3 linked regions of the Homo sapiens genome follow. The protein of the gene in region 1 interacts with the protein of each later gene in a pairwise test. Each region holds a gene or a part of one and is shown in the gene's direction. Other genes may lie near its edges.

Region 1 (3,747 bases):
TTGCAATCAACATTTAAAAATGTGGATCTTTACATATTTTTGCCAGGATATCTGTAGGGTACATTTCTAGAAGTAGAATTGCTAGGTCAAGGAGTAGATAAAATACATTTAAACATTTTGATAGCTGTTACCAAGTTGCTCTTTGATGAAATTGTACCAATTCTCACTCCTACGAACAATGAGAGTGTTCCATTCTCTAAATCGTTTCAGATATTTGACAAGATAAAAATTAGCACCTGGTTTAATTTGCTTTTTTTTTTTTTTTTTTTTTTTTTTTTTTTGAGACGAAGTCTCGCTTTGTCAGCCAGGCTGGAGTGCAGTATCGCGATCTCAGTTCACGGCAACCTCCGCCTGCCAGGTTCAAGCGATTCTCCTGCTTCAGCCTCCTTAGAAGCTGGGATGTAATCCCAGCCTGTAGGTGCCCGCCACCACACCGAGCTAATTTTTGTATTTTTAGTAGACACAGGGTTTTGCCATGTTGGCCAGGCTGGTATCGAACTTCTGGCCTCAGCTGATCCAGGCACCTCGGCCTCCCAAACTGCTGGGATTACAGATGTGAGCCACTGTGTCTGGCCCAAACTATTTTAATGTAATGTAATGTAATTTTCTTGAGACGTAGTCTCGCTGGGTTACCCAGGCTGGAGTGCAGTGGTACGATTTCGGCTCACTGCAACCTCCTCCTCTCGGGTTAAAGTGATTCTCCTGCCTCAGCCTCCCGTGTAGCTGGGATTATATAGGCGTGTGCCACCACGCCTGGCTAATGTTTTTGTGTTTTTAGTAGAAACAGGGTTTCACCATGTTGGCCACGCTGGCCAAATTGTTCTTCTTTTTTTTTTTTTTTTTTTTTTTTGAGACGGAGTCTCGCTCTGTCGCCCAGGCTGGAGTGCAATGGTGCGATCTCGGCTCACTGCAAGCTCCGCCTCCCAGGTTCACGCCATTCTCCTGCCTCAGCCTCCGGAGTAGCTGGGACTACAGGCGTCCGCCACCACGCCCGGCTAATTTTTTGTATTTTTAGTAGAGACGGGATTTCACCGCGTTAGTCAGGATGGTCTCGATATCCTGACCTCGTGATCCGCCCGCCTCGGCCTCCCAAAGTGCTGGGATTACAGGCGTGAGTCACCGCGCTCGGCCTTTTTTTTTTTTTTTTTTTTTTTTTTTAATTGAGACGGAGTCTCGCTCTGTCGCCCAGGCTGGAGTGCAGTGGTGCAATCTCTGCTCACTGCAACCCCGCCTCCCGGGTTCCAGCGATTCTCCTGCCTCAGCCTCCCGGGTAGCTGGGATTACAGGCGCCCGCCACCACGCCCGGCTAATTTTTGTATTTTTAGTAGAGACGGAGTTTCGCTATGTTGGCCAGGCTGGTCTCGAACTCCTGGCCTGAGGTGATCCACCCGCCTCGACCTCCCAAAATGCTGGGATTACAGGCGTGAGCCACCTCCCCCAGCTCCTTGCTTTCTATTTCTACTGGGCAGTGCTGCTCAGTAACCATGCCAGTCCCGTCCCCGCCTCTATGCGCTGGGATTCCGCAGCCAGAATACTTACATCCCTGGGGCCCCAAGGGGCTCACTAAACCACGTGCCTTGTCCAGGTCGCGTTTTTTTGTTTTTGTTTGTTTGTTTTTTTCCTCCTGGTCTTGTCCTTTGTAAAGCCTTAGAACAGTCGTTAAACAACCCAGCAAATATGCAATTCGCGTTTTCAGTAAATTTATCCAAACCGCATTCCATTCCTTACCCTCCTGCTTCTGCGCAGACAAGCGCCCTTGATGACGTTTGTCCCACGTCGCTCTCCGTTCGCTCCCAGGCTTCTCTGCGCGTGCGCCTCCTCACACGCCTGCAGGTATGGCGTTCTGGTGTCAGCGTGACAGTTATGCCCGAGAGGTACGGCGTCACGGCGAGGCACTTGAGACTGCCGGGCCGGCAAGGCGGTTTGGGGAAGAGGGCGCCACGTGTAGGGAGTGCCAACATGGCATTCTGTCCTGGTGTGGAGAGGGCTAGGGCTAGGGCTGGGGTCGGGGCTTATTCTCTCATTCCTCTCTGTTCAGTTCACCACCACCGTGGTCTCCTGCTGTCCCGCGGAGCTGCAGACTGAAGGGAGCAACGGCAAGAAAGAAGTGCTGAGCGGTTTCCAAGTGGTGCTGGAAGACACAGTGCTTTTCCCTGAGGGCGGGGGACAGGTACCAAAACGATCTCTTCCCAGGAAGCCCCCAGTTTCTTTGTGCTCAGGCCGAAATGCTCTCCTGCCCCTTTTTTCTCAGCCATAATGAATTCAGATGAGCTTTAGTTTAATTCATTTTGTTATTCATTTAATGAGTATTTATCAGCAATTGCTTATCTAGACATAACATATGCTAGATATTATTCCAGGCTGTAAGGATAACCGGTGAACAACACAGTGCCTTTATATACGTGGAATGTTTATTGAAGACAACTGTGTGTGCTAGGTATAATAAGTAATAAACAAAAACCAAGTAAAGGGAAAGAGAGTGATGGGATGCTTGTCTAGATGAAGGGTAAGTTATTTCAGTAGAGACCTAAACGAAGTGAGGGGGTGAGTCTTTGCAATTATCTAGTGGTGCTGGGGGGCAGAGGGAGTATTCAGGCAGGTAGAATAGCAGGTGCAAAGGCCCCAAGGAAGGAATTAGCTTCGGGTTTTAGGGACTGAAAAAGATGTTCCTGAAGGAGTTCAGGTGAGATAGACGGGTTACAGTAGTACAGCAGAGAGCATATTTATCAGTGCTGTGATGAGGACTAGGTACAACATGAGCGCAAGTGAGGTACATTGTGAAGATGGAAGAGGAGGATAATAACACCAAAGGTGGGCATTATGAGAAAGGCTTTTCTTTCTTTTCTTTTCTTTCTTTCTTTCTTTTTTTTTTTGAGACAGAATCTCTCGCTGTCATCAGGCTGAAGTGCAGTGGCATGATCTCAGCTCTGCAACCTCCGCCTCCTGGGTTCAAGTGATTCTCCTGTCTCAGCCTCCCAAGTAGCCTGACCAACATGATGAAACCTTGTCTCTACTAAAAATATAAAAATTAACCAGGCATACTGGCAGGCCCCTGTAGTCCCAGCTACTCGGGAGGCTGAGGCATGAGAATCACTTGAACCGGGAGGCTGAAGTTGCAGTGAGCCAAGATTGTGCCACTGCACTTCAGCGTGGGGGACAGAACAAGACTCCGTCTCAAAAGAAAAAAAAAAGGTGTATTAAGGTGTGTGGGCAGCGAACCATGCAGGTTATTTTCTTTCTTTTTTATTTTTAAGAGACAGGATCTTGCTATGTCACCCAGGCTGGAGTGCAGTGGCCTGATCTAGCTCACTGCAGCCTCGAACTCCCAGGCTCAAGCAATCCTCCTGTTTTAGCCTCTCCAGTAGTGGGGACTACAGGCGCACAACCAACATGCTTGGCTGCTTTTTTGTAGAGATGAGGTCTCACTTTATTGCCCAGGCTGATCTTGAGCTCCTGGCCTCAAACAGTCCTCCCACCTTGGCCTCCCAAAGGCTGGGCCTACAGGTGTGAGCCACTGCCCTGGCCTCCACTCAGGTTCTTAAGCAAATAAGTGACATGAGAGAACATGTTCAGTAGACTTGGTATTGAGAGAGTTCCAATTTCATATCAGTCATTATTATGGTGATTTTCCCAGTATGAAGATTTCCCTGATCTGCTGAAGGAAAACCTGTGACCTCAAGTATCCATAGAAGGTCTCATTTTAGACAGCATTTCTTTCAGGAAGTCTTTTTTTGATTCCCCAAGACT
Region 2 (3,747 bases), on another chromosome or scaffold:
CCTGAGGGGAAGTTTGAGTGCAAAGGGAACATGCCTTAGTAATATATTTCAGATTGGCAGCCATGGCAGAAGAATGTATATAATTTTCTAAAAGCTGGAGTAGGGGCAGTAAGCAGCATGGAAATGGTTGTGCACATATGAAAGTACAGAAGGTTTTTTAAACTTGGACAAGACACTTTATCACTGAGATCAAACAATTTTTTCCTGAATGGCACCAGCCCGGGCAAGTGGGGTTCATTCCTTCTGGGTATATACAGGAAAAAATGAGCAATAACGATGGGGTTTTAAGGGCTGCCTGCCAGGCTGCCAAATTTGTTGAAAGGTTTCTCTCGGTTATGGCATCTTTAGACTTTCGGCACCCCTTGCAATGGATAATGGTGGCCTTTGGTGGTAGTTTATCCACCCCCAGCAGCTTATGTATAAGTTTGCCATTTCTTATGGGAGTTCCTTTTGTAGTTAGGAAACCCTGTTCCTGCCAGATGAAGGCATGAGACTGTAGGACATGGTATGCATATTTGGAATGGGTGTAAATGTTGACCCTCTTTCCCTTTGCTAGGGTGAGGGCCCTGGTTAGGGCAACTAGCTTAGGCTGTTGAGAGGTAGCATGGGGTGGCAGAGCATTGGATTCTAGGAGTTTATTTTCAGCAATGATGGAATAGCCAGCTGCTGGACATGGCTCCCTAAAAGAGCTTCCATTAACTAACCGTGTATGTGTTCCCTGCAAAGGGGCATGTGAAATGTGTTGGAAGGAGGAGGAGAGGGAGTCTAAGAGGTCCAGACAGGAGTGAGAGAGCCTAGAATCGGAAGTGTTTACAGGGAGGAGGGTGGCTGGGTTGAGAGTTTTATATCTCTGGAAGGGGATTAGAGGGCTACCTAGGAATAAGGCATGTACCTGTTATAAGCAGGATGGTAGGAGGGATAGAAGGGATTGATGGTTTATGAGGTCCTGTAGGTAATGGGAAGATGCAATAGTAATGTGTTGGTAAAGAGGGAGTTTCCGTGCCTCTAAGGCCAGCGATGTGGCCACAGCCAAGATTTTTAGTCAGAGTGACCAGCCTTGGTCACACAAAACAACAGAGTCCAGTTGTTTTGAGAGAAGTGCAGTGGCTTGTGTGGCGTTGCCGTATGTTTGGCAGAGTAGTCCAAGGGCAAGGCCCTGGTCAGAATGTACATACAAAGTAACGGGCTTGGTGAGGTTGGGCAGTCCCTGTGCCAGGGCCATTAAAAGGGCATTTTTAAGTTTTTAAGTGGGAGTTGATGGGGCAAGCTGGGTTTAGGGGTTTTAGGATGGGCCCATGTGAGGCCCTGTTTAGTGGCTTGGCCAGCAAGTCAAAATTGGGAACTGACAGCCAGAAGTAACCCACAAGGCCCGAGAAGGAGAGAAGGTACTTTTTTGTGTGAGGAAAGGGCATGTCCCAAATTAGCTCCTTTCATTGGGTTGGGATGGCTCGAGAATTAGGGGTTAGGACAAACCCAAGGTAAGTAACTTTGGTTTGGGCTACCTGAAATATTGTGGGCTAGGCCCAAACTTTGGTTTGGGCTACCTGAGATTTCCTCTATTATGGAGGAAGTTTAAAACCTAAGTGGTGTGTTGGATGGACAGGTTAAGGAAGGGGCTACAGAGAAGGAGTTTGACATGTTGCAGGAGGGTGCTAGCAGCAAGGGAAAGTTCACCTAGGTCCTTGATGAGGGCAAGTCTGAATAGGTGGGGGCTATCCTGGAACCCCTGTAAGAGTACAGTCCACTCTAGTTGGGTGCACATGTGAGTATTAGGACTTGACCAAGTTAAAGCAAAAAGACTTCTGTAAGCCGGATTTAAGGGAATGGTGAAATAGGCATCTTTCAGTTCCAATACAGAGGAGTGTGTAGTAGATTTAGGAATATGGGAGAGTAGAGCATATTGGTTGAGGACCACTAGATGTATTGGTACCACTGCCTGGTCAACAACTTGGAGATCCTGGACAAAGGGGTAAGTCCCGTCTGTCTTTTGGAAAGCCAGAATAGGGGTGTTCTGGGGAGAGTTAACAGGCTTGAGAATATGAGCTTGTTAAAGTTTACAAATAATAGGTTTGAGGCCCCTAAGCACGGCTGGATTAAGGGGATATTGAGACTGAAAAAAGAAAATGGAGGAGTTTTGAAAGGTTATTTTAACTGGGATGTGATGTGTGGCTATTGTGGGTTTAGAAACATTCCAAGCTTTAGAATTAACAGAAGGTAACAGGGTGGATAATGAGGATGAGTAGGGGGAGAGGGAAGCGTTTGGGTGTCGGAGTAAAATAAAAGGGGTAGAATTGTAGGAGCCGCATTGCATGGAGGCCTGGAATTTACTTAATATGTCCCACCCCAAGATAGGGGTAGGGGACTGAGGGATAACCAGGAAACAGTGGGTGAAGGGGGCTGTTGAATAGGTTGCATAATAAAGGACGAGTCTGTGCCTAGAGGGGATTTTATTGATTCTCACAATAGAGATCGAAGAACAGAAAAAGGGTCTAGAATATTCTGGTAAAACCGAGTAACTAGTTGTCGTATTGAGTATCCAATAGGAAAGACATGGACTTACTAGAGACTGACAGAATTACCCTGGGTTCCGAGGTGGTGATGGCAGTAGGGGTGGTGGACTCTAGGCCCCACCTGTCTTCAGGTACAGGTGGTGAAGCTAGATGAAGAGTTTCACTGAGCACAGTCTGACTTCCAGTGTTGCTTGATATCACAGATGGGGCAAGGCTTCCAGAGTGTCACGGGATTAGGCCAGGCTTTTGCTCAGTGTCCCTGTTGGATGCACTTATAACAGGCTCCTGGAGTTGACTGTTGCCAAGTTGAGGAATTCTGTATGCCTTGGGAACCCTGTTGAGTGGCAGCTATCAGCATTTGATATTTAGCCTGGCCCTTTTTTAGGTTTGGGTTTTTTAGTTCTTCCTCTCTAATCTTATAGACCTTAAAGGCCACTTTGATTAAGTCTCTTTGGAGGTTTGAGGGCCATCCTCCACTTTTTAAAGTTTTTTTTCAAATGTCTGGGGCTGACTGGGAGATAAAGTGTAAATGGAGGTAGATTTTGCCCTTAATGGTATTAGGGCTTAAGGTGGCATATTTAGTTGTGACCTTTGAAAAGGCGGGAGAGGAAAAGAGCAGGGGCGACTTTATTTATGCCAGCTAGAAGGCATGATATCATATGGCCTGGTTTCTGCCTGTCTACAGAAGTTGCCTGATAATTCCGATTGAGGTCAGTTCTGGGGACAGCTAGGGTCCCTACTGGGTTATGAGCAGCATCTTGTTGGTGGAGGGTGTTCTCATGGACCTGGGCACCCGTAAATATGTGTTCCCTGTCCTCCAGGGTGAGGGTAGAGGAGAGGATGACATATATGTCATGCCAGGTAAGGTCATAAGATTTAGGGAAGTACAGACATTCCTTGAGGAAGGAGGTAGGATCCATTGAAAAGGAGCAAAGTCTCTTTTCAGTATGGGAGAAGTCAGCTAGGGAACTTGAATTCAGATTATGCCTTCAGTCCTTGCAACCTCCTGCAAGGGAAAGACTTTGGAAGGCCTTTGGGCATGTGTCTGGTTTTCGGCAAAAGAGCGTTGGGCGTGAGACCTGGTTTGAGGTGGAGAAGGAAGGGGGATGGAGGGTGACAGTAAGGGGGTGGAGGAGCCGGATCCGAAGGAGAAGGTGGAGGGAATGGGAGAGGGCAGGAGCCAGACGAAGGGGTTTGTTGGCCAGGTTGAAATTCAGAGGAGGAAGGCTTGTCCCGA
Region 3 (3,747 bases), on another chromosome or scaffold:
TAGCAACCTGGGAGATGTTCCTCCGCCACTTCCTCCTTGGCGGTAAAGGACTTGGCTTTTGTTCCATGTTGCTTCCCATTTAGTGCCTTCCCCAGTTTCTAGCAGGCCATTAGCCAAGGGGCCACACAGGACAGTGTTAGTCCCCTAATATAAACTCCCATCTACCGGGCCTAGACATTCCCACACCTCCTTTTTCCTATCTCTGTAAGAGGCTGCAGTGGTACTTCCTAGTGCACTAGTGGATGTGGCTCTGCCATTCATGGGTCCATGCCTGGGAAGCCAGCTCCAGTCCGTGAAGGCCGGGCCTGTGAGGGCATTCCTGTGTTACTGTAAAGGAATACCTGAGGCTGGGACATTTATAAAGGAAAGAGGTTTAATTGGCTCACAGTTTGGCAGGCTGCACAAGCATGGCACCAGCAGCTGCTTGGCTTCTGGCAAAGGCCTCGGGAAGCTTATAATCATGGTGGAAGCCGAAGTGGGAGCAGGACCATCACATGGCACGAGCAGGAACAAGAGTGAGGAAGGGGAGGGCCCGGACTTTGAAACAACCAGATCTTGTGTGAACTAACTGAATGAGAACTCACTTTTCACTAAGGGGATGGTGCTAGCTGTTCATGAGGGATCCCCCCATGATCCCGTCACCTCCCTCCAAGCCCCACCTCCAACACTGGGAATCACATTTCAACATGAGGTTTGTCTGTCTCTGTCACATGCCCACTGCTTCACCTGCATTCCTGGCCACCTGTCAGGGTGCAGGAAGGGATGTCACTGCAGGAAGGCTGCTCAGTGAGGTGTGTGTGTTGGGGGCGGGAGGGGGGCATATCCAAGGGGGCCTCTGCAGACATCAGGTCAGCAGGCTGGAGTGTGCAGCATGGAAATGGGGGAAAATTTGGGGCCATCCTGAGCCCAGCATGATGCAGACCTTGTTTCCAGTCCTGCAGAGGCCAGTCCAGGATGAGGCAACCTCTAGGCCTCTGGACTCTAGGAGTGAGAATGGAGAGGTTAGATGTGAGGTGGAGATTGCACAGTAGCTGAGTACCTTCTGGGAAGTGCTGAGTGGTAAAGACTGACAGTGTAGGATTAAGGCTTGGAGGATATCTTGGTTGTGGGTAGAGGGGAAAGACGACGCAGCCCTAAAGTAGGGGTGGAAAGCCCACAGGACTGAAGTGTAGAAGTATAGAAGCCTGGGGAGAAGATGGGGTCACCGAGGTCTGCATGGAGGAGGACAGCACATTGTCATTGGTTGCAGGAAGCCCCTTTCTGGGGCCCTCAGTCCAAACACAACAAGAGACGCTCATGGCCTGGGATTGTAGTCTGAGTCCACAGCAGTGCCAGTGCCTTTATCCTGGGCCTTCCCATGAGCTCTTTCACTTCCTTCAAACCAGGCTGGGTCTCCCCAGCCCTGAACCACTCCTGTGGGCCAGGCCTGGTTCCCTGGAATCTTCTGGTGTACCTCTGATTTCTTCTGTGCTCCTTCTACAGCAAAGGGATTCTCTTCGTGAAGGAGTACGTGAATGCTAGTGAAGTGTCTTCTGGGAAGCCAGTATCTGCACGCTATAGCAAGTAAGAGCGGGTCCCAAACCCTTCCATGTCGGCCTTCTCCTGCCGGCTCCCATATTCTCATCCCTGCATTTCCAGTTCCTTGTCCAGGACTTGGCTCAGAGTAGCTTCGGGGTAATTGTCGAGTGGATGAGTGATGTAGTTGCCCTCTGATGGGATTGATGCATTTTCTACTGAACTGGGCACCTTTGGGTTCTCCCTTCCGGTGAATTCATCCTGCACACCATTTTCACTGCCATTCTGTTCTGCTTGTCTTTGTTATTTTATTTTGTAAAATGCTGAGAACACCCCTCTTGACAGAGCTGGCAGAGCCCTAGGGACCAACTAGCTCATCCTATTTCTTTTCAGATCACAGAGCTCTTCTCTTCTGCCCTCATGTTCTTTTCTGTCATGCCAGGCTGCCTCATTTGAACACACATGTGACTGCAGTTCCTGATACATGTGTGGCTTTGCTTTTTAATTTTAATTAATTAGTTAATTAATTTTAATTAATTTTTTTTTGAGATGGAGTCTTGCTCTGTTGCCCAGGCTGGAGTGCAGTGGCGCCATCTCAGCTCACCACAACCTCTGCCTCCTGGGTTCAGGCAATTCTCCTGCCTTAGCCTCCCTAGTAGCTGGGATTACAGGCGCCCACCACCATGCCCAGCTAGTTTTTGTATTTTAGTAGAGATGAAGTTTCACCATGTTGGCCAGGCTGGTCTCGAATTCCTGACCTCAAGCAATCCACCTGCCTCGGCCTCCCCTTTTCATTGATCATCTCTTCATTTTCTTGCTTTGTGATGCCATGTGGAGGGGTACTTCCATGTCACCTCGGTGTATTGCTACCTACCACACTGAGGTGAGGTCCCTTAGAATGTTTCTTATGACATGTCATCTCACTGGAGGATTTTAGCAACAGAGAGGAGCATCCTGGCCTTATTTCAGGATTGGGCCTCTGGGGCTTCTGGACTGGCTTTTATTGGTGCTGTGGAATGATGAGCATGGCTGTGGGGGTCAAGTTCAAGCCCCAGCTCAGGCCCCCCTGTTAGGATCACTTCGGACAAGATGTTCAACCTCTCTGAGCTTTGCTTTCACATCTGTAGGCCCTTAGGGTGGTTTTTCTCAACAGCTTATTGAGTTATAATTCACCCTTTAAAGTGTACAGTCCCGAGGTTTTGGTACATTCACAGAGTTATGCAAACATCATTATCCAATTCTGGAACACCTTTGTCTCCCCAAAAAGAAACTCCAAACCCGTCTGCACCCCCTAATTCTACCCCATAACTCAAGCACAGGTATTATACCAGAATGATCCCTTCTTTCTTCTCATTCCCAGTATCTGATTTCTGCTGAGTGGGCTCCTGGTGACTGTCACATTATATCATAGGTGGGGAGGAAAGCTCTGCTGTTTTCCCACTGGTCAGTGGGGTCCCCTTGGCATATACAACCTCAGGAATCCTAGCCACCCAGCCCCGATCATCTCCCTCATTGTGAAAGGTCTCCTTTGCCCCCCCATAGAAGGGCCCTGTGGCACCAAGTCATGAATGACGACTGGCATCGTAGTTATGTCTCAGCTTGTGGCCAAAGGTTAATTAGAAAATTAACTATGATAGTGATTTGGCTCTCATCTCTGCCCTCCTCTCCCCTATCAAACTCCCTGCAGCGTCAGCAGCATTGAGGACTCATTCGCCATGGAGAAGAAGCCTCCATGTGGCAGCACTCCATACTCTGAGAGGTATGTTGACTTTCTTAGCACGGAGCTTGCACTTCTACAGAGGAGAATCAGGGAAGGGAGAGTTCCTGCTGAGTCTGTTTGCTTTTGTCTTCTGCTTTGCAGCCTCCAATCCATTTGCAGAAAGGTGAAGGACACTACCGTAGGGTGGTGCTTCCCTTGTTGGGATATCACACTTGTGACAACTAAAGCCTTTGAATTGAGCTAAGACTAGAGGGTAGATACCAGCGGTGACTGAGAAGGGAAGTGGTGGCATCTGACAACCCAGAGGACTCGTGTCAGCAGGAGGGGCCCTTCAGATTAGAACCTAATCAATCACTTCATTAACTTGCAAATCTAACCAGAAGTAAAAATAAAATGACTACAAAAGAGAGGAGTGGGCAGAGAAGGAAGAAAAATGGGCTGCTGGCATCAAGAAGCCAGAAAGACACACAAAGCCAAGAATGCCCAGTGCTGTGGAGCCACCAAATTGAAAG

The links.
Region 2: the proteins of AARSD1 (region 1) and SPANXN3 interact in binary tests that used the Homo sapiens proteins (3 or more experiments, as listed by UniProt).
Region 3: the proteins of AARSD1 (region 1) and ZNF185 interact in binary tests that used the Homo sapiens proteins (3 or more experiments, as listed by UniProt).

The regions. Positions count from the first base shown.
Region 1 is NC_000017.11:42,962,529-42,966,275, reverse strand, and holds the start of AARSD1 (alanyl-tRNA editing protein Aarsd1), read left to right. Parts: upstream 1-1,821; 5' UTR 1,822-1,835; coding exon 1,836-1,874; intron 1,875-2,038; coding exon 2,039-2,170; intron 2,171-3,747. Other genes in the region: PTGES3L-AARSD1 protein, read left to right, coding at 2,039-2,170. UniProt on the Homo sapiens protein: Functions in trans to edit the amino acid moiety from incorrectly charged tRNA(Ala).
Region 2 is NC_000023.11:143,510,732-143,514,478, reverse strand, and holds part of SPANXN3 (sperm protein associated with the nucleus on the X chromosome N3), read left to right. Parts: intron 1-3,747.
Region 3 is NC_000023.11:152,963,965-152,967,711, forward strand, and holds part of ZNF185 (zinc finger protein 185), read left to right. Parts: intron 1-1,482; coding exon 1,483-1,563; intron 1,564-3,202; coding exon 3,203-3,274; intron 3,275-3,747. UniProt on the Homo sapiens protein: May be involved in the regulation of cellular proliferation and/or differentiation.